Regions from separate parts of the Homo sapiens genome. Here region 1 is linked to region 2. Evidence: fine-mapped expression QTL. A gene starts in region 2. The other region holds a variant in brackets. All regions are shown on one strand. Distances are between the middles of the regions. Region 1 overlaps ABLIM1 (actin binding LIM protein 1). Region 2 holds the start of AFAP1L2 (actin filament associated protein 1 like 2).

Region 1 (8,877 bases), 25 kb after region 2:
CTTGCTTGCTCTTAATCTCCCTCCAGCCAGGCCCTGAGGACAGTCACTAAGTTTCCCTGAAGTGACTGTCTCCACAGAAAACTTAAGACCAGCATTTATTATACTCACCCTCCTAACAATAGAACGAAGAGAACGAGAGTACATTGAAAAGGAAATAAGTTGGTACAATAATAACATTTCTAGGCCATTTTTTTCAATGTTCAGAGGTTTCTCAAGATTGTGAGGGGAGAAAGGGAGAATAGGATACTGGTGGATTGCTTTTCCTTTAAGCAACTGTGCACCTAACTGATTCTCTCATCTCATACTTTTGTATTTTACAAGAGATAATCTCCTTGCAAATAAGGTGACACTTGAGCAGACTGCAGTGGGATGTCCCGGGGGCATTCCGAGCCTTGCCGAGCTGAAGGAAGATGTGGGTGATTTCCCATGGAGGTCTCAGCGAGGGCAGGTTTCCCAGGCCTTGTCTGACTGTGGTCTTGTGAATTAGGGCGACAGTGATAACAAATCCTGGCAAGGGATGCTTGGTTCATCACAGACCAGCTCTGCCACTGACCTGAGATCCTGGGATGTGGGGAAGGGTTCCCAAACTTGGTTGATCATCAGAATTATCTGGAGGCTTTTATATTTTGTTGTAAGATTCAACTTCCCAGCTCCTAACCCAGATCTACCCAATCAAAGCCTCTTTGTGGACTGAAGCCTGAGCTTTGGGGTTAGACTTGGGTCCAGATCTTAGCTCCTTCCCCAAGTCTCCCTTTGAGCTTGGACAAGCCAGGCAGGCTCTCATCTGTGTATCGAAGGGAGCAACATTCACCCAGGTGGCTCGTGAGGATCATAGATCACGTCTGTGCAAGTGGAAGCCATTTGATTGAAAAAATGGTTAATAAATCCGAGCAATTTACTCTTGAGTTGTATGAAGCACCTTGTTTTTATGTAAAGGAGGGGCGTAATAATTGTTTTTTTCAACAGGAGAAGCCAGCTGACCCTTGCTCTTATCTGATGGGAATGTAACTGGCATCAACATTTTCTAACTTTTCATTAAGAAGCATATGTTTTAAGACAATAGCAGGAACGAAAGAACCTATTCTTTCTGTGCCAGCATCCGTCCAGCTTAGAACAAAATGTTATTCATGGCCAGGCTCCACCTTGCTGAGAAAGCCTGGTATTTGTCTTTGTAGGCAATCCTTTTGACATCCTTAGAAGGCCTTGTGGAGACCCCAGAGAGCTGTAATTGCCTTAGGAGGAAGGTGGCATTTGGACTTGATGGGAGGGGGCTAGAATCCTACCCACTTGTCAGTGGAGCTCGCCCAGCCTTGGGTTTGCCCTTCTCAGATTAAACAAAATAATCTACGTAGAGTATTTAGCCCAGCACCTGGCACTTGGAGGCCTGCAAAGAATGTTCGCTGCTGCTGCCATCAGACCCCTCTCTTCTTAGTGCCTGGACTCAGACACCTGGGGGTCTCAACCCGGCTAGATCTGGGGCTAGAAACCCCTGAGGCTCTGCCCTGCCTCCAGCCCCTTCGGGATACTCTGGGAGGGCCTATGGCTAACATATGCTAGGGGCAAAGCAGGAACAGCCTCTGCTCTGAAGGGGAGGTTTCCTAAGCCAACTTTTTTCTTTTTATCTGATGGGAAGGGCTGAGTTAAGAGTGAGCAGCAGGGGACAGCACAAATAAATACAGAAAAACCTCTCCAGGAGCTGTGATTGTGCTCAGCACAATAGCAGGCCCTGGAGAGCAAGTTTTATCCAGTGGAGATTGGAAAGTAAAATAAATGTGGTCCTATTACCCCCTCTTCTGCAGACCCGACTCGCTACAGCCTATCCCTGAGCTCTGCCAGAGTAGAAGGGAAGTGTTTGTTCAGAGTCCTGGTCTCCTGTGGGGAAGAAGGTGCGGAAGTGAGTTCTTAGGGCTGGGGTCGAGATTCCCTGAAGTTTTGGGTGCTATTCTCCCAACCACCCTGGCTTTCTCAAACGCTGACAGCTCCAAGTCCCCGCCCTTCCCAGTGCTTTCCGGCCCACAGTGGGCCACCTCCAGCAGGGTGGGCCTGACAGACACACCCTGGCAATGACCTGTGGGGAAGAGTAGCCTTCTTCCAGCAACGGGCAAGAGGGGCTGGGGAGGATTGGTGGCTTTCTCCCTCAATACTCTCAGGACCAGCAGCTCAACTTTTACAGCCTTTGGTTGCTTTGAAGTGAGTCATACCATTGAAAAGATCTTTCTGGAACAAACACCATCTTTCATGAGAATGAGTCTCAGCTCTTCCACAGGGAGTGTTTCTAAGCACCGCCGGAGTAGGCTAGGACAATCCTCCCAACCCAGGAAAACCCTCTGGAGCAGCTGAGTCCCAACCTGGCACCTCTGAACGCTTCCAGTTTGAGGAGTCTGCCATGCTGGGTGGCCACAGTGCTTTGGGGGCACCTGTGCCCCTCTCGGCATGACACTTGCCCATAGGCAGTGTTTAGGACTGCCTCAGCCTCCCGAGTAGCTGGGACTACAGTCGCCCATCACCACACCTGGCTAATTTTTTGTATTTTGAGTAGAGTCGGGGTTTCACCATGTTAGCCAGGATGGTAGCGATTTCCTGACCTCGTGATGATCCACCCACCTCAGCCTACTCAGCCCCACTACTCAGAGACAGTCTCTCTGGGTCTGTTTCCTTAACTAAAATGGAAGGAACCTAAGGAAGTATATGAAAGAAACCACAGAAATTGTTTAGTTCGGGGCTGGGCAAACAGTACTTATTACATGGCAGCTACTTCATGAATAAAATCCTTTTTTTTTTTTTTTTTTTTTGAGACGGAGTCTTGCTCTGTCACCAGGCTGGGGTGCAGTGGTGTGATCTCAGCTCACTGCAAGCTCCGCCTCCCGGGTTCACGCAATTCTCCTGCCTGAGTAGCTGGGACTACAGGCGCCCGCCACCACACCTGGCTAATTTTTTGTATTTTGAGTAGAGACAGGTTTTCACCATGTTAGCCAGGATGGTCTCGATCTCCTGACCTTGTGATCCGCCCGCCTCAGCCTCCCAAAGTGCTAGGATTACAGGCATGAGCCACCGCGCCGGGCCTGAATAAAAGCCATTTTAAGTGCTCGTTTAGTATCATGCAGGCTCTTGTCCTGCAGGAATTCTCATAATAACCTTTTGTGGTAGGTATCATTATTATTCCTCTTTTATGGACATGGAAATTGAGGCTTAGAGAAGTTAAACAATTTGTTAGTTATACAGATAGCTATTGGTGGAGCTGAAACTCGAACCCAGGCAGCCTGATGCTATACCCTGCACTCGGCTGCTGAGTAATACTTCTGGTTATTATTACTACTAATTAGCACATCTTCAGGGGATCTCTATCTTAGACTATGCTTGGGTGGAGAGAGTGCTGTTGTTGAAGTATGTAAAAGAGGTCGTGGGATTATTTTAATCCTGGAGTATTTATATAAAGACTAGAAGGAGAATCCATGAGGAAGGCCCTGTGAACACAAACAAAATGACTAGAGGGAGGGGTAAAAAGCCCAGAGTGAAAACTAATTCATTCTCAAATGATTATTTAAAATAATACTAGTCCTTATTCAACCACCTAAGTGCTCACGTGCTATAATTTGGCAACAGTCTTTTGATGGATATTATTATCTTGTCCATTCTGCAGATGAACAAATTGAGGCTGAAGAGAGGCTAAACGGGCTCCAAGACACACAGACAGTGAGTAACCCCCAAACTGTTCATAAATGCGCCTTGGTGGTAGTGTTGGGGCTCATGGCCACACTGAAGGGCGCTGGCCGGTCTCACACTAAGAACCCATTCTGTGCAGTGTGCCCTGGGAGATTCAGAATGTGGGACACAGTCCTTGCCCTAAGAAAGTCACAGGGAATGGGATGTGGAGGATAACAGCATGGGATCTGAAAAGGGCAGACCTGGAGAATTCTAGCTCTGCTGCTCACTGGCTGAGTGATTGGGCATGTTTGATTAGACTCTGAGCTTTGGTTTCCTACCTGTATAGTGGAGCTACAATTGTCTACTTTGAAAGGCTCTCACGAGCAATATAGTTATGCCAAGCTAGGGTGCCTGGCGCTCAGCACAGAGATCTCACTACAGTTCAACTGAAGAGCAGAAACCCACGCAGCTAGCAGTTCGAGGCAACACTTGCTAAGTACCGACCTTGAGGTTCAACTAGAGGCATGCAAAGAATTACATGCAGATTGGGCTGGGCCCATTAAGACAGGCTCATAGAGAGGGTGTGAACTTGGACTTGTCTTTAATTTGGAACAAATGGAGCCCATGGGAAATTCACATGGGTAACTCCAAAGAGCTGATGGGTAGCTGTTTTTAAAGAGTCAACATTGATCATTACTTCCTTTCCCTGGGGCCAGGTCCTCTCTGCTCCACCACCTCCTTGAAGAGTTGAGCATCGTAAAGAAGAAATACCTTTGATAAAGCTGCCTGGGAGGGAGCAAGCATGGTATGTCCTGGGAACTTGCAGTGGTTTGGCAAGATCTGAAGGCAGGGTACTGGGGGAGAGGCAGCTGAGCAGTGGGTGAGGCGAGATCCTTCCACTCCCAGCAAAGGCAGTGTGAGATTCGCTGACTAAAGTCTAGCAACTGAAGTGAGGCACGGGTCAACTTCCATTGGAGAGGTGGCCACCAGAGCCAAATCCCACAGAGAGTTCATAAGGACTGGAGATGACCCCTAGCTATGGTAATTATGGACCACAGCAGGGATGCTTTCCCACGGGTGGAGGCAGAGATGAGCAGAACACAGACCTTGAGCTGAGGTCTCCCGGCCTGTTTTCCATGGTGGTGAACTAAAGATGCCAACTGTCTTGAAAACAACCTGCATCCCGCTTCCAGGGGAGGGTCATGTGAATGCCAGTGTGACTGGGTCTTGGGTAGTCTCAGCAGACACAGAGCAGAAGGAAGGCTATCGTTGGAGTGGGCCATCTTGGACATAGATCCTTGTACTTTCTGGCAAGCCTAAAATCTTGGCAGTGATGATAACAAGGAAGTTAACATCTACAATTTCTTCATGTAAAGTTTGATCATGCAGGGGATGCCCAAAATTGGAAGGATGCTTTTCTCCTACTGCATTCTAGCTTCTTACTAAAAAGTGGCCCACACTCATAGTGGCTCAGAAGCTTCAAACCTCCTCAAATCCCCAGCTTTGTCGAAATGATGGGACTATCCCTGCTGTGTCACAAACCAAATCAAACACCTATGACACAGCACAGTGTAATGGCTCTACTAAACATTTCTTTCCTTTGGACAGCTTGGTCAATATGGTCTGGGTTATTGGACACACAGTCCTGGAATATCCTGCTGTTATTTGCTGCATTTTTCCACCTGCATGATAAAAATGTAT[T/C]CCCACAGCCTTGGGTTCATTCTGATTTTGTTTTGATTATTGGAAGTTGCGTTGGTGCTTTTTAAAATGAGATAGACCTTCAAAGGGAGCCAGGGAACGAGAAATGAAACACAGGTATGGAGGCATCTACGAATAAAGCACACAACTTTATTCACGAAGTTGTGAGTATGACAGTGATGCAGAGTATATGACAAAGGAGTGCAGTGAGTGCTGCTGGCAACAGGAGCGGGGAGCAGGTAGGGATCACAGGCACAGCAGCGCGGAGCCGGCAGGGCCACCTCCTCCTCTACACACAAGCATGTGGCACTTAGCGCGCCAACACACACCTGCTCAGTTTCACAGGGAACACGACACAGCTTTTCAAAAGGAATTCTTCTAAACATTTGCTTTCATATTTCCAAAAGGGGAGGGAGGGCAGGAAGAACCACACACCTTCCAACATTTGAAAAAATTCCATAAACCCAACTTAAAATCAAAGAACTCAGAGAGCTTCAATGCGGAGTCATCAGCAACTCGCAGGAACCACACACATGATTGGACAAGTCTGTACATAAAACCCCAAAAGAACATCAGTTTTGTGGACAATGGTTTCCTCTGCTGTAAAGAAACGTATGCATATATGATCAGTAAGCAGCTCACATCTTTCTGAATGTCAAGGTCTACAGGATTGTCTCTGTCCACCTTTGGTCAATGGGTTCAGGAAGTGACTCATGGGAACTGCACTCTTAGGAGAAACACTTTTGGGAATAATTTTATTGAATAACAACCACCACTCAATTACACTAAGCTTCAGAAATTGTTGGATTTGTTTAATTTTGCTGTGTACCTATACATTGTTTAGAAAGTTTCTTTTGGCTTAAACTGACCATTTCCCCCCTTCTTTTTGAGTTTTCCATGATTAAACTTGCCCAAATAAAAACATAACAATCCATATGCAAAGCATATCTGCCACCACCTCCCACTGCTTCCTGGGCCGCAAACAGAAAAATAAACAGTGATTAAAAAAAAATGCCAAAGTGAAGGTTTCTCTTTCTTCTATCACAACATAGTTGGGTAGTTCCCTTAAAGTACATCATTGCTATAAGTTGGTATCACTGCAAATCTCAAGTCCCAAATAATCTCTTTTTCTGGATAGAAAGTTATTCAAAAGGGAGCACAAAAGAGCAAGCTTTGGGGCATACTGACAAACACTTCATTGGTTAGAAGAGAATAATTGTAAAAATCAAATAAAATTGAGGCTGGCATAGGAAGTACAGATTAAATACAGGTTAAATAGCTACCAGAAACACAGAAGAGGTGGTTAATAAAAACTGAGATTGCTTCAGAGGACACAGGAGGGTTGATGAGACAGTCTATTTTCCTTCCACCATCTTCCATGAGAGTCAGGAAAAGGGTTCTGTGAGCACCCAACCTGGAGCGGTCACCTGTCTCTTCCATACACAGGAGGATGCTAAGACCCAGTTAGCTTTAAATGGTTTTTAGAAAGACTTACCTAGTCAAAAGTGGTTAATTTGAACTTTTCAAACTTGCAAAAGCATATACATTTGATATCATCATCTGAGAAGCAATTCTTAGAAAAAAATGTTTGCTTCAATGTCTAAAGAAATCCAGTGAAAGTTTTAGAAACATTGCCAGCTAGACGTCTCCGAGTTAGAGTTGATTGATATACTGGATTGGGATGGAGAGGATGAGAACTGAAAAAGAACTGCTCCAGCCTCTGCCTCAGAAGAGGAAACTCAGCTTGGAGATGACAGAATTGGGTAGCGGAGTAGATGCTAGAGCCCATGACAGATAGAAAACTACCCCCATTTAAAAAAAAACAACAACTCATTAACTCTATCTCTTTGAGGTTTTGGAGAACAGGAAGTTTATGTGAAGTTATTGAACACGTCATATTAAGAACATTTCATAACTAACCCCAAACCAAAATGTAGATGCATAGCTAGCTGTGCAAGTTTCCCAATGCTCTTCCTATCTCCTAATAAGTCACACAGAAAGACTATGTGATAGCCTGGATTTTCTTGAAGAAATTTTAAAAGAACTGATTTTCCTATCATCATTGAGGCCCCTTTTACTTCATGCCATCATTATGCACTTAAGAGTCCCAAGGAAGTCAAATGTTCCCAAATGTAGCCCTTTACATCGGCACCAGGGAAGCCTGCCATATATACAATCCCCTTCCTAGGGTGAACAAGCTCCACCAGTTTGAGTGTGTTAATAACTGGAATTTTCATGTATAGTACAGGGTAGGGTAAAAGCAGACCAATAGCCATCTTGTGTGCTGTGACCAGGATGGACATTTTGAGGACAAGCATGCTGAGCCCAGTTTAACTAAATGTGCAGGCATTCTAGCCCACACATTCAATCTGGCAGTTAGCAGGAACCAGGTTGCCCCACAACCCATCCCTCCAGCTGGAGCCTTTTGCTGGGAAATGGAGTAGGGGGCCCACTCTGCATTATGGTTTCCAATGACCCCTCCCCAGAGCAGAGCACTACTCTGCTTGCAGATAGGAGGCTACTGGTGCTTTCTGGCAATGCATTTCTGCAAGGTGCAGTTTAAATGAACTCATATGGTACTTGATATGGAAAGAAGCTTTTTTTCTTCTCAAGTTGGATGCAGAACTGAGTTTAAAAGATACAAGGAAAGCAGGGTTTCATTAGTGGGAGCTGATTTAGGGTTCAGTTCTTTATCACTGCAATCTTAGGCAGGCCCCTTAACTCCTAGTCTCTATAAAATAAGGAAGGGGGTTGTCCCAGTTTTCAGTCTAATGTCCCCATTCTATGACAGACCCATGTCTTCTTTATGTAGACCAAGGAAGAGGAATTTTAGCAAAACTACCTGATTATGCCCATGTTTCCCAAATACCTTGATTTTTCTTATATTGACATTTCATCTGCACATGTCTGGGTGATAATTCATTAATCAATGTAAAACGTAGGGACCCTTTATTAGCTCCATAATGAAAAAAATCTCTCCACCAGCCAAGTGCTGGGACCCAGGTGGCCACCATTGTTATTGACAGGTAAGGAAGCACTGGAAATGCACCATCCTCTCCATCCCCACACTTTCCAGAGTAAAGCAAGGATGAGGACACCCAGGCATTGTGCCAAGGCTGCCATTGCAGGAGGGCACAGAGAGAGGATGGGATAGAAAAAGCATGGAATAAGCAAGAAGCCACTGAGACACCAAAGGCTAAACTGCAAACTGCAGTGTGGCTTCCAACCAAGCAAGAGCTGGTCTCATCTGCTCATGGCCACCCTGTCAGAGCCATTTGCTAAACATGTTAGTAGATCCAACACACACACACACACACACACACACACACACACACACACACACACACACGAGAGTAGTCCTCATTCAGTGCATAGCAATGGAAGGCTAGGACAATTTAGATTCCTTAGGTAAGAGCACAGGAGGATGCTATAGAACAGTGACTGTTCATTCCATCCCCCAAATGACAGCGGTGAGCCACGTGTCAGAGGCTGCAACACAGACTCAGAAACTATTCTACTTGCTTTTTTACCACT
Region 2 (8,904 bases):
CCCAAGCTGTACCCTAGACCAATTAAATCAGAATGTCTTGGGTGGGGCCTTTACATCCATATTTTTGAAAGCTCCACAGATGATTCCATGCACAGCAAAGGTTTAGAACTACTGCCTTAGATAGAACTTCAACACAAAAAAACCTGAGTTCGTAGGCATTGAAAAATAACAAATACAGATGATTCCTGAAGGTAGCATGCCCATCTCTTTTAATTTGCTTTTCTTTTCCAGACCTTCCCTGACCACAGATCTCAGGATTCCCATATAAACTTTGAAGTAGTATTTTACTGGATTGACTCTTTGCAGTTCATATCTGCCTCCAATGCCCTAGAGCTAAGCGGGGGGACTGGATGATCAAATTCAGAAACAAAAGAACCGCAGAAAAAGAATAATAACACTTTCAACCAATTACTGTGATCTAAATTGAAGCTGAATATCTCAACCAGGCCCATCTGTATCCAAGTATGATGCAATTTCAGGAAGCTTCGGCATGGATGTTCCAAGCACAATCCACAGATAGTAGGTCAGTCACATTTGGCCCAGACCCACTCACCAGCTGGGAGAGCAGTCAGAACCAGAATGCGTGACCACACTGGGTGAGTTCAGCCAATGGGCTCATGCACAGCGATAAAAGGATGCTCTTATGAGAGTCATAAATATGTAAACACATAAGGATGGGAACCTTCTCAAAGCACCCTGTAGGATTTGGCCCCACATCCTGACATTTGCGAGAGCCTTACTGCTTATACAACGCCAAAGAGATTCACATACAAGACATAGCCATTTTACCATCGCTATTTATGGCAACTCTCATAAAAGTGCCATCTCTCTAGGAAGGGACTCCCACATACTCCCCGATCCCTTATTTTTGCTTGGGTGAGTCATGGCTATCTAGCAGAAATCTTGGAAGGGACTGGGAAGAAAGTCTGGAAGTGTCTCTGCAACAGGCATGTCACATGGGTGATATTCCAACCACCCATCATCTCCAGACCTCACTTTACATCCTACAAGACAATGGAAAATCCACTCAGAGCCCAAAAATGATAGGCTATTTTTGGAGGATGTACAATATATATAACAAGCAGGCTAAGGAACATGGAAAGACAATTTCTCCTACATGAACTGCTTTATAAGATTTGCAAATTAGAGAAAACATTTTGAGACTCTGAAGACAGCCATGAGGCATTTCCACCTACCTGAGAGAGGGAGAGCTCAAAATTGGAAGTACAGAAACAGAATGAAGAGGCATTTAAATAACACATTTAAAAAGTGTCACACACAATAAGAATTTTTCTTTACAGTTTTTACTTAGGCTCCAGGAGCCCAACTAAATAAACCTGCTTTTTCCGTTTAACTTTGTTGTTTAAACCACTATTCCTAGTTATTCCAATAACTATTCAATCTCAACTTTAAGAAGATGGCCCCAGTCTCTGAAAAGCAAGAAGAGACTACCGATTCTAGTCAGTCACACTGGTTAATCAGAGATGGGCTTCATTTTGCATTTTGCATAGAGGAACTTTTCCATTTAAAGGGTGTTCAAAGCACAACTTATCTGCCTCTCAGGAGAATGGGGAATTCTATATCCTGGGGCTAGGGGATCCCCAAATTCCTCAGTGAAAGGTGTAGTAAACCTATTAGCAGCATGACACCAGCGAGACAAAATAAAGATTTTTCTCATGAGTCAAACACTGGAATTTGAGTTGGATTAGCCTCTGAAACCTAGATAATTCTCAGGTTTACCCACTTATCACTCTGTGTCTGGTTTACTGCAAAATGATCAGGCAGATACATGTGTTACCAAAAACATAAGCACCCTGACCTGGAAACGAAGTTCCCTTCAGTTGGCAAAAACTGATCCTCTTCGAGGGTGGGAGGATTTTAAGCTCCTGAGAGAGAAAGATAACTAAGAAGACTTTTATCAGGTCAAGGGCCAAGTCAAAAGTTATTAATACAAAAGCCTTCTGAGAATAACGGGACATTTTGAAAGACCCCAAATGTGATTTGCCCTGATTTAGAGAGATTAATATGCTGATTTGAGAAAGTAGCTTGCAACCTACAACTAACACCACCCCCACCCCCATACACACACCCCAGCTTTGCAAGTCAGGGAGCTGGAAGGCACCCCAGAGGCCAACACTTCCTGTCAGGCTCAACTCAAGGCCTGAATTCCCAGAGAGGGTCCCTCCCGAAGGGCGGAGGGGCCCCAGTAGGGGAGGGAGTGCAAACGGCCATGTTACAAGGAGCAGGACTGTGGCTTCCTCAAGTGTCTGAGACAGCATAAGCGCGCATTCAGTCATTCAAGCACAAAACTGACGTGATCCCAGTAGAATTTGAGAAGAAGAAAACCACCGGGTTAGAAATGCGAGAGAAGCTCCAGGGAGGGTTCACAGAAAGAAATCAAAGGTGGCCAACTCCTTTAACCCTGTCCCCCACGCCGGCTCCCTGCTGTCGGCAAAGACCCTTCCTGAATATATGAAGCTCTGTCTGGGACTTGGATCTTTTGCCTTCACCAGTAACCAGGCTACCCAGATGAGAAAAAGCAATGGGAAAGTGAAAGACAAGACTACTTTAGGGAAGCCGGTCCCAACAGGTCCCTTTATGTCAGTTTCAGGGATCAGAGCCCTCCGGGAGTGAGATTCCTGGGAATCTGAGCGTTCTCTTTTTATTACTCTCTCCCAGGGGAAAACAAATATAGAAGCAGCATTTCCTCCCGCAGGTTTGGCGGAGACCGGTCCAGCAAAAGAGAAGGCAAGAGGCTTTTCCAAAGGGAAGGGGTCTGCAGGAGGATGGGGGAGGGGGGAGCGCCCGCAGGGTTCCTCTTAAGGGGCAACTCCCTGTACTCCCTTTTCAAAAGAACCGCAATCGAGACTTGTAGACCAGCTCCGAGGCTCCGAGTGTGGGTGCTAAGCTGGGCGTCCGGCGCACCCGGGACGGCCCGCCCACCGGGGTTTGGCGGAGATCCTGGCCCCCGCCAAACCCAAAGCTCGCCCAGCTGCGCACTGAGCTAAGCCCTCGGGTCCGGACGCCTCCAGGAGCTCCACCTGCCGGGCACTCCATTCGGCCCCCGACCCTCGCATCCCTCCTTTCTTGGTGTGGGGGAGCAAAGAAGGGCTTGGAGAGAAACGATGACCCGAACGGCAGGACGTTTGGGGAGGCCCCACCTAGCCCGGGGAGGGTCTGCGCGCCCACTCCACTGCCCAAGCGCTTTGCCGGGAGCAGGAAGCCCCTAGCCCGGCGGGCGCCCGGGAGAAAGGACTCAACAGCCCGACCCTTTGCCCCCAGCAGCTCAGCACGGTTCCCACCTTCTTCGGGGCTTCCTCGGCCCCAGGCATCTTTCCTGTGCGGCGGGACTGAGGGTGGAGTGGGGTGCCGGGCTCACCCTCTCTCCTGCAACAGGTGAGAAGCCCCGCCACGCCCCCCACTGACGACCCCCTCCTTCCGCGCCCGGGAGGATCAAAGGGCTCGGGCCGCAGCAGCCACCTAGGAGCCCACCCGCCCAGTCCGCGGCGCCGCTGTCGCCCCCTCTTAGGCCCAGGTCCGGGCTGGGTGGGGGCAGTGGGCTCTGCTTATCCCGAGTCCTGGCAAGACGAGTCCTAGCCCTGCCCTCCGCGTCGCTGGGCGAAAGGGAGTGGGTGTGCGCCGCGCGAGGAACCCGCGCCCTCACCTTTGTACCGCTCCATCGGGGCCACGGAGTGCGCTCCTCGCGGCTCGGCTTCTGCGCTGCTCTCCCGGCGCTCGGCTCAGCGCCCAGGCCGCCGCGCTGGCCCCTCCCCGTGAGGTCACGCTCGCGGCCGGACCTCCTGGCGGGGCCGCCGCGCCCAGGGTCCTCGGACCTGGCCCCCGCCAGGGCTCGCCCCCAGCGCCCCTGTCCCAGCGCCCCTGTCCCAGCGCCGGAGAACTCCGGCCCGCCGAGGCTGACAGTCGGCTCTTGAGTCGGTGCGCGCCCGCGGCCCCGCTCGCCGCCCCCGGCCGCCTTGGCACTCCCTTCACGTCTTGACTCCGGGGGCGTCGAGAGGGAACGAGACTGGGACGTTCCCAAACTCTGGGGGAGGCTCCGGGAGGCCGGGCTTGGGTGGGCCTCCAAGATTGTTCCCACACCCCTGCCCGCTGCAAACCCAATGCCTGGAGGAGGAGACCGAGGTCCAAGCTAGGAGGTTGAGACTGGCTTAGAGCTCCTCGCGCTTGGCTCCCGAGCCAGCGCGCTTTTGCCCTAGGCCTTCCTGGAGGGGCGAGGAGGGCAGCGGGGCGGGCAACCAAACCTGCTCCGGGTTCTTTGGGGATTGCTCCCACTCTCTTGGAACCTCTCTGGGCAGCCGCTGCCAATCGCGCACACTTCAGGGTGTGTGAAAACATCTGCTTGCTGCTTTCTACCTGAATTTCCAGGGCCAACGCCACAAGTCAGGGAGTGCCGTTTCCGGGGCGCCCAGTAAACCTGACCGCCTTGGAGGGGTGGCGCCGGTTCCATAAGGAAGCTCGGCCATGGCTCTGAATCTCCACCCTGCACTGCCTCCATCCAGAAGTGCCACACTTCCATCCTTTGCCTTTTGCCACCGGTCCTTCCAGGCCCTTAATGCGACCTAGTCTTCTCCGTGCTCCCCCCAGAGATCTATGTGTTCTTTTAAACTTTTTCAGTTTTCACTTTAAAATCTCAGTCACGGTTTGTGCTGGGTGCCTGGTTGGTTACCTAAGTTCCCCAGCTTCCTTGAAGGAACAATTAAGGAAGATTTGGCAGTGGTGGTTTTCTAAAAGACTTCTTAATTCTTCCTTGGAATCGCAGATTTAGTTGTGATGTTTGGAGACCTCCCCCAACCCCTCCCAACAGCATGTAGAAATATTTTTCTTAGTTATACTAGCACCTAATGTGGATGGAGCCCTCCCCACAAGCCAGGCACGGCGCTAAGGGCTGTACATCACTGCCTTTAGTTTCCCCGATATCCCTGTGACATGGGTATTATTATGATCTCTTTCATAGAGGTGAAGAAGCTACGGCTGGGCGCGGTGGCTCACGCCTGTAATCTCAGCACTTTGGGAGGCTGAGGCGGGCGGATCACGAAGTCAGGAGTTCGAGACGAGCCTGGCCAACATGGTGAAACTCCATCTCTACTAAAAAAAAAAAAAAATAGCTGGGCTTGGTGGCAGGGGCCTGTAAACTCAGCTACTTGGGAGGCTGAGGCAGGAGAATCGTTTGAACTTGGGAGATGGAGGTTGCAGTGAGCTGAGATTGCGCACTGCACTCCAGCCTGGGTGACAGTGTGAGACTACGTCTCAAAAAAAAGAAAAGAGGTTAAGCAATTTGCTCAAAGTCACACAGCTAGAAAAGAGCGGAGCAGGCGTTAAACTCGGATCTGTCTGCTTCCAAATGTGTATTTTAATTTTTATTTTTTTAGAGACAAGGTCTTGGTTTGTTGCCTAGGTTGGAGTGCAGTGGCACAATCTTGGTTCACTGCAGCCTCAAACTCGTGGGCTTCACACTGATCATTACAGAAATGCAAATCAAAACTGCAATGAGATACCATACCGTCAGAATGGCTATTATTAAAAAGTCAAAAAATAACAGATGCTGGTGAGGTTGCAGAGAAAATGGAATGCTTATACACTGCTGGTGGAAATGTAAATTAGTTCAACTATTGTGAAAAGTAGTTTGGTGATTTCTTAAAGAACTTAAAACAGAACTACCATTCAACCCAGAAATCCCATTATTGGATATATACCCAAAGGAATATAAATGGTTCTACCATAAAGACATATGCACATGTATGTTTATTGCAGCACTACTCATAATAGCAGAGATATGGAATCAACCTAAATGGTCATCAACAGTAGACTGGATAAACAAAATATGGTGCATATATACCATGGAATACTATGCAGCCATAAAAAAGAACAAGACCATGTCCTTTGCAGCAAGGAAGAATGGAGCTGGGGGTCATTTTCATAAGCAAACTAATGCAAGAACGGATAACCAAATACCACATGTTCTCACTTTTAAGTGGGATCTAAATACTGAGTACACATGGACACACAAAAGGGAACAACAGACACCACAGCCTACTTGAGGGTGGAGGGTGAGAGGAGAGTAGGGATTGAAAAATTACCTATTGAGCACTATGCTTACTACCTGTGTGATTAAATAATCTCCACACCAAACCCCTATGACACACAATTTACCTATATAACAATTTGCACATTTGCCCTGAATCTAAAATAAAAGTTTAAAAAGAAAAAGAAGAATAATCAGAAAATTAAATATTTTTAAAAATATATTTAAGGTAAAACTGGAATGTATTGTGTTAAATGAAATAAAATATTTAGGCCAGGCGTGGTGGCTCATGCCTGTATTTCCCAGCACTTTGGGAGGCCGAGGCGGGCAGATCACCTGAGGTCAGGAGTTCGGGACAGCCTGGCCAACGTGGTGAAACCCAGTCTCTACTAAAAATACAAAAATTAGCCGGGCATGGTGGTGCACACCTGTAATCCCAGCTACCTGGGAGGCTGAGGCATGAGAATTGCTTGAACCCAGGAACTGGAGGTTACAGTGAGCTGAGATCACACCACTGCACTCTAGCCTGAGCAACAGAGCAAGCCTGTCTCAAAAATAAATAAATAAATAAAATCAAAAATTAAAATGAAATAAAATGTTTACAAACAAACCAACAACAATAAAAAAAAACCTCCTGGGCTTCAGTAATCCTCCCGCCTCAGCCTCCCAGGTAGCTAGGACTACAGGCACATACCATGACACTCGCCTAGTTTTGTTGTTGTTGTTGTTAATTTATTATTTATAAAGATGGGGCCTCCAACTCCTAGGCTCAAGTGATCCTTCCACCTCGGCCTCCCATAGCGCTTGGATTATATGTGTGAGTCACTCTGCCAGCCCCAAATATTCACAAAACTTCTTGGCACTCATAGGAAGTGCCAGGCTGTTTGTTACCATCTCATGGGGCACACAGACCAGTGAACAACACAGCACAGTGAGGTAGATGCTCTGATAAGACAGAAACACGAGGGATTCTGGGAACACACAAGAGGACACTGAAGCAGCAACGGCTGCACTGAGTTCCATGAATTTGAAGAGTGCGACGAGCTGGCTGAGTGGGATGAGTTCGAGTTAGTGAGGTGACAGGAAAGGTACAGTGAGTGCAGCTTTCCAGGCAGAAAGGACAGTGGGAACAGAGGCAGGGAGATGAGCCTTTTCAGGGTCAAACAGCTCTGTTGCTGTAGCAGAAAGGGAGAAGCCAGGAATGAAGCAAGTGAGGCTGGAAAGGTGGGTGCAGCACTGTTCCAGGGCCTAGAGTGCTGAGCTGAGGTGATTAGACAGCACTGAAGAGTGTTGGTGCCCCGGGGATCCCCCAGGGGCTGAGAGCAGGGGGAGCACAGGAGGCAGTTGTACCCCCCAGGTGAGAAGCTATGGGGTGGTGGAAAAGCCAATGGGGAAGAGAGGACTGATGGCAGCAACCTTCTGGAAGTTGTGCCTGAGCAGAGTGTGAGGGAGGAGAAGAGCTGAGGCCGACTCTGCAGTTTCCAGCAATTTGAGTGGTTAGGTGAACAGCGTCATGCAGCCCTCAGATGTGGGGCCTGCTGTGTGCCAGGTGTCTCCAGGAACTGCAGAGCATGAGCAGGGCAAACAAGTCCTGCTCTCCTGGGCTGCTTTGGGGGTGGGGATGGAGACAATGAGCAGGAAAAGAGTCACACTCAGAAGTGGCTGCAGGTTGGGGAGTTGAAGGGAGAAAGTGAAAGGCCCATGGTGCTCCCAGGGGAGTTAGAACACTGGGTCTGAGCCCTGGAGCTCAGCCCCTTACATCAGCACCCTGTTCCACGTGGGCCTGCTCAGGAGGGCTCAAGAAATAGAAAAGTCAGAGGCTGTGGCAAGAATGCTGACGTCTCATGGATAAGAGGAGAGGGAACAGCGTTCCGCGGGCCTCCATGCAAGCTGGAACTGGAAAGTGGGGCAGGACGGATGGTGTCTTGCCTTTTTGCCTTCTCTTTCTCCTTCCCTTCCTTTCCTCATATTGCAAATGGCCCGGCCTGGCATCCACCCTCTATTCTACCGGTGTCAAGAGACTATTAGCAATGGGTCCTGGTTTCCTTTCAAATTCTCAGGGCGAATCTGATGGTGTAACTCTTCCTTTTGAAGGAAGCCTCAAGTCTCTGTTCCCAGCCCTGGCTGTCAATTGGGGTCAGCAGGGCCAGGTTACAAGGTCCCACTCAGCAGCCGTTTTGCTTGAGTTGACTCTCCCACCAGGGTGGCTAGGAGCAAATTGAGCTATCTCTGTTTCACAAATGAGGAAGCAAAGAAGTTAGGTGACTCACCCAAAGTCTCAAAGGAATCTCTTTCAAAACTAGGACTCAAAAATGAAGTTTCCTGACTCCAATTTCCTGGACTTTACCATGGCCCTTAGTTCAGGCTTTCGAAGGGCTCCAACTGGACAGTTTCACCCCGGCAAACCCTTTGATAGCCATCTCCCTGAACACTTCCTGTAACCGCAGCACCCTCCCTGCAGGCTGGGGACAGCTCGATATCTCCATTTTGCCTGTCCTCTCTCCCCCTTTCCTCTCTTGCCCCAGCCCCTTTAATTACCTCTTCCCTAAATCCTCTCTAGTTTATTGATGGAGACTTGGCAAATCCCAGAGGCTCTAGACAAAACAAAAATCAATCAGAAATGTATGCAGAGTGAATTTAAAATGGGAATTCACCGCCTTTTCCAAGAACAAAACTGAAGGGAAAAAAATAAAAAACCCCACCACTTAAAACCATCAATAGGAATCTTGGGCCTCTGGAAGCTCAGCACTGTCTCCTCCTCTCCAAAACCTGGGTGCAATTTAACCCCTTGTGGCTTTGCAACGTCCACACAGGGTTCATTCACATTCCGATTCAAATTCATTGGGTTTTTGGCCTCAGGAATC

Evidence for each region. PIP is the estimated chance that this variant, and not a neighbour inherited with it, causes the effect.
Region 1: its variant is fine-mapped to the expression of AFAP1L2 in pancreas (GTEx, PIP 0.99).

Annotation. Positions count from the first base shown.
Region 1 is chr10:114,425,639-114,434,515 of GRCh38, forward strand. ABLIM1 (actin binding LIM protein 1) reads right to left here. Exons shown (of 23, transcript NM_002313.7): 23 at 5,474-8,877. Among named protein-coding and RNA genes, the nearest start is that of AFAP1L2, 26 kb to the left of the region's middle. The variant T/C (reference allele first, on the strand shown) is at 5,347.
Region 2 is chr10:114,400,776-114,409,679 of GRCh38, forward strand. It overlaps AFAP1L2 (actin filament associated protein 1 like 2), which reads right to left and starts at 3,727. Exons shown (of 19, transcript NM_001001936.3): 1 at 3,665-3,727. The coding sequence starts at 3,680. RefSeq lists silencers at 2,882-2,931, 3,729-3,808 and an enhancer at 3,762-4,262.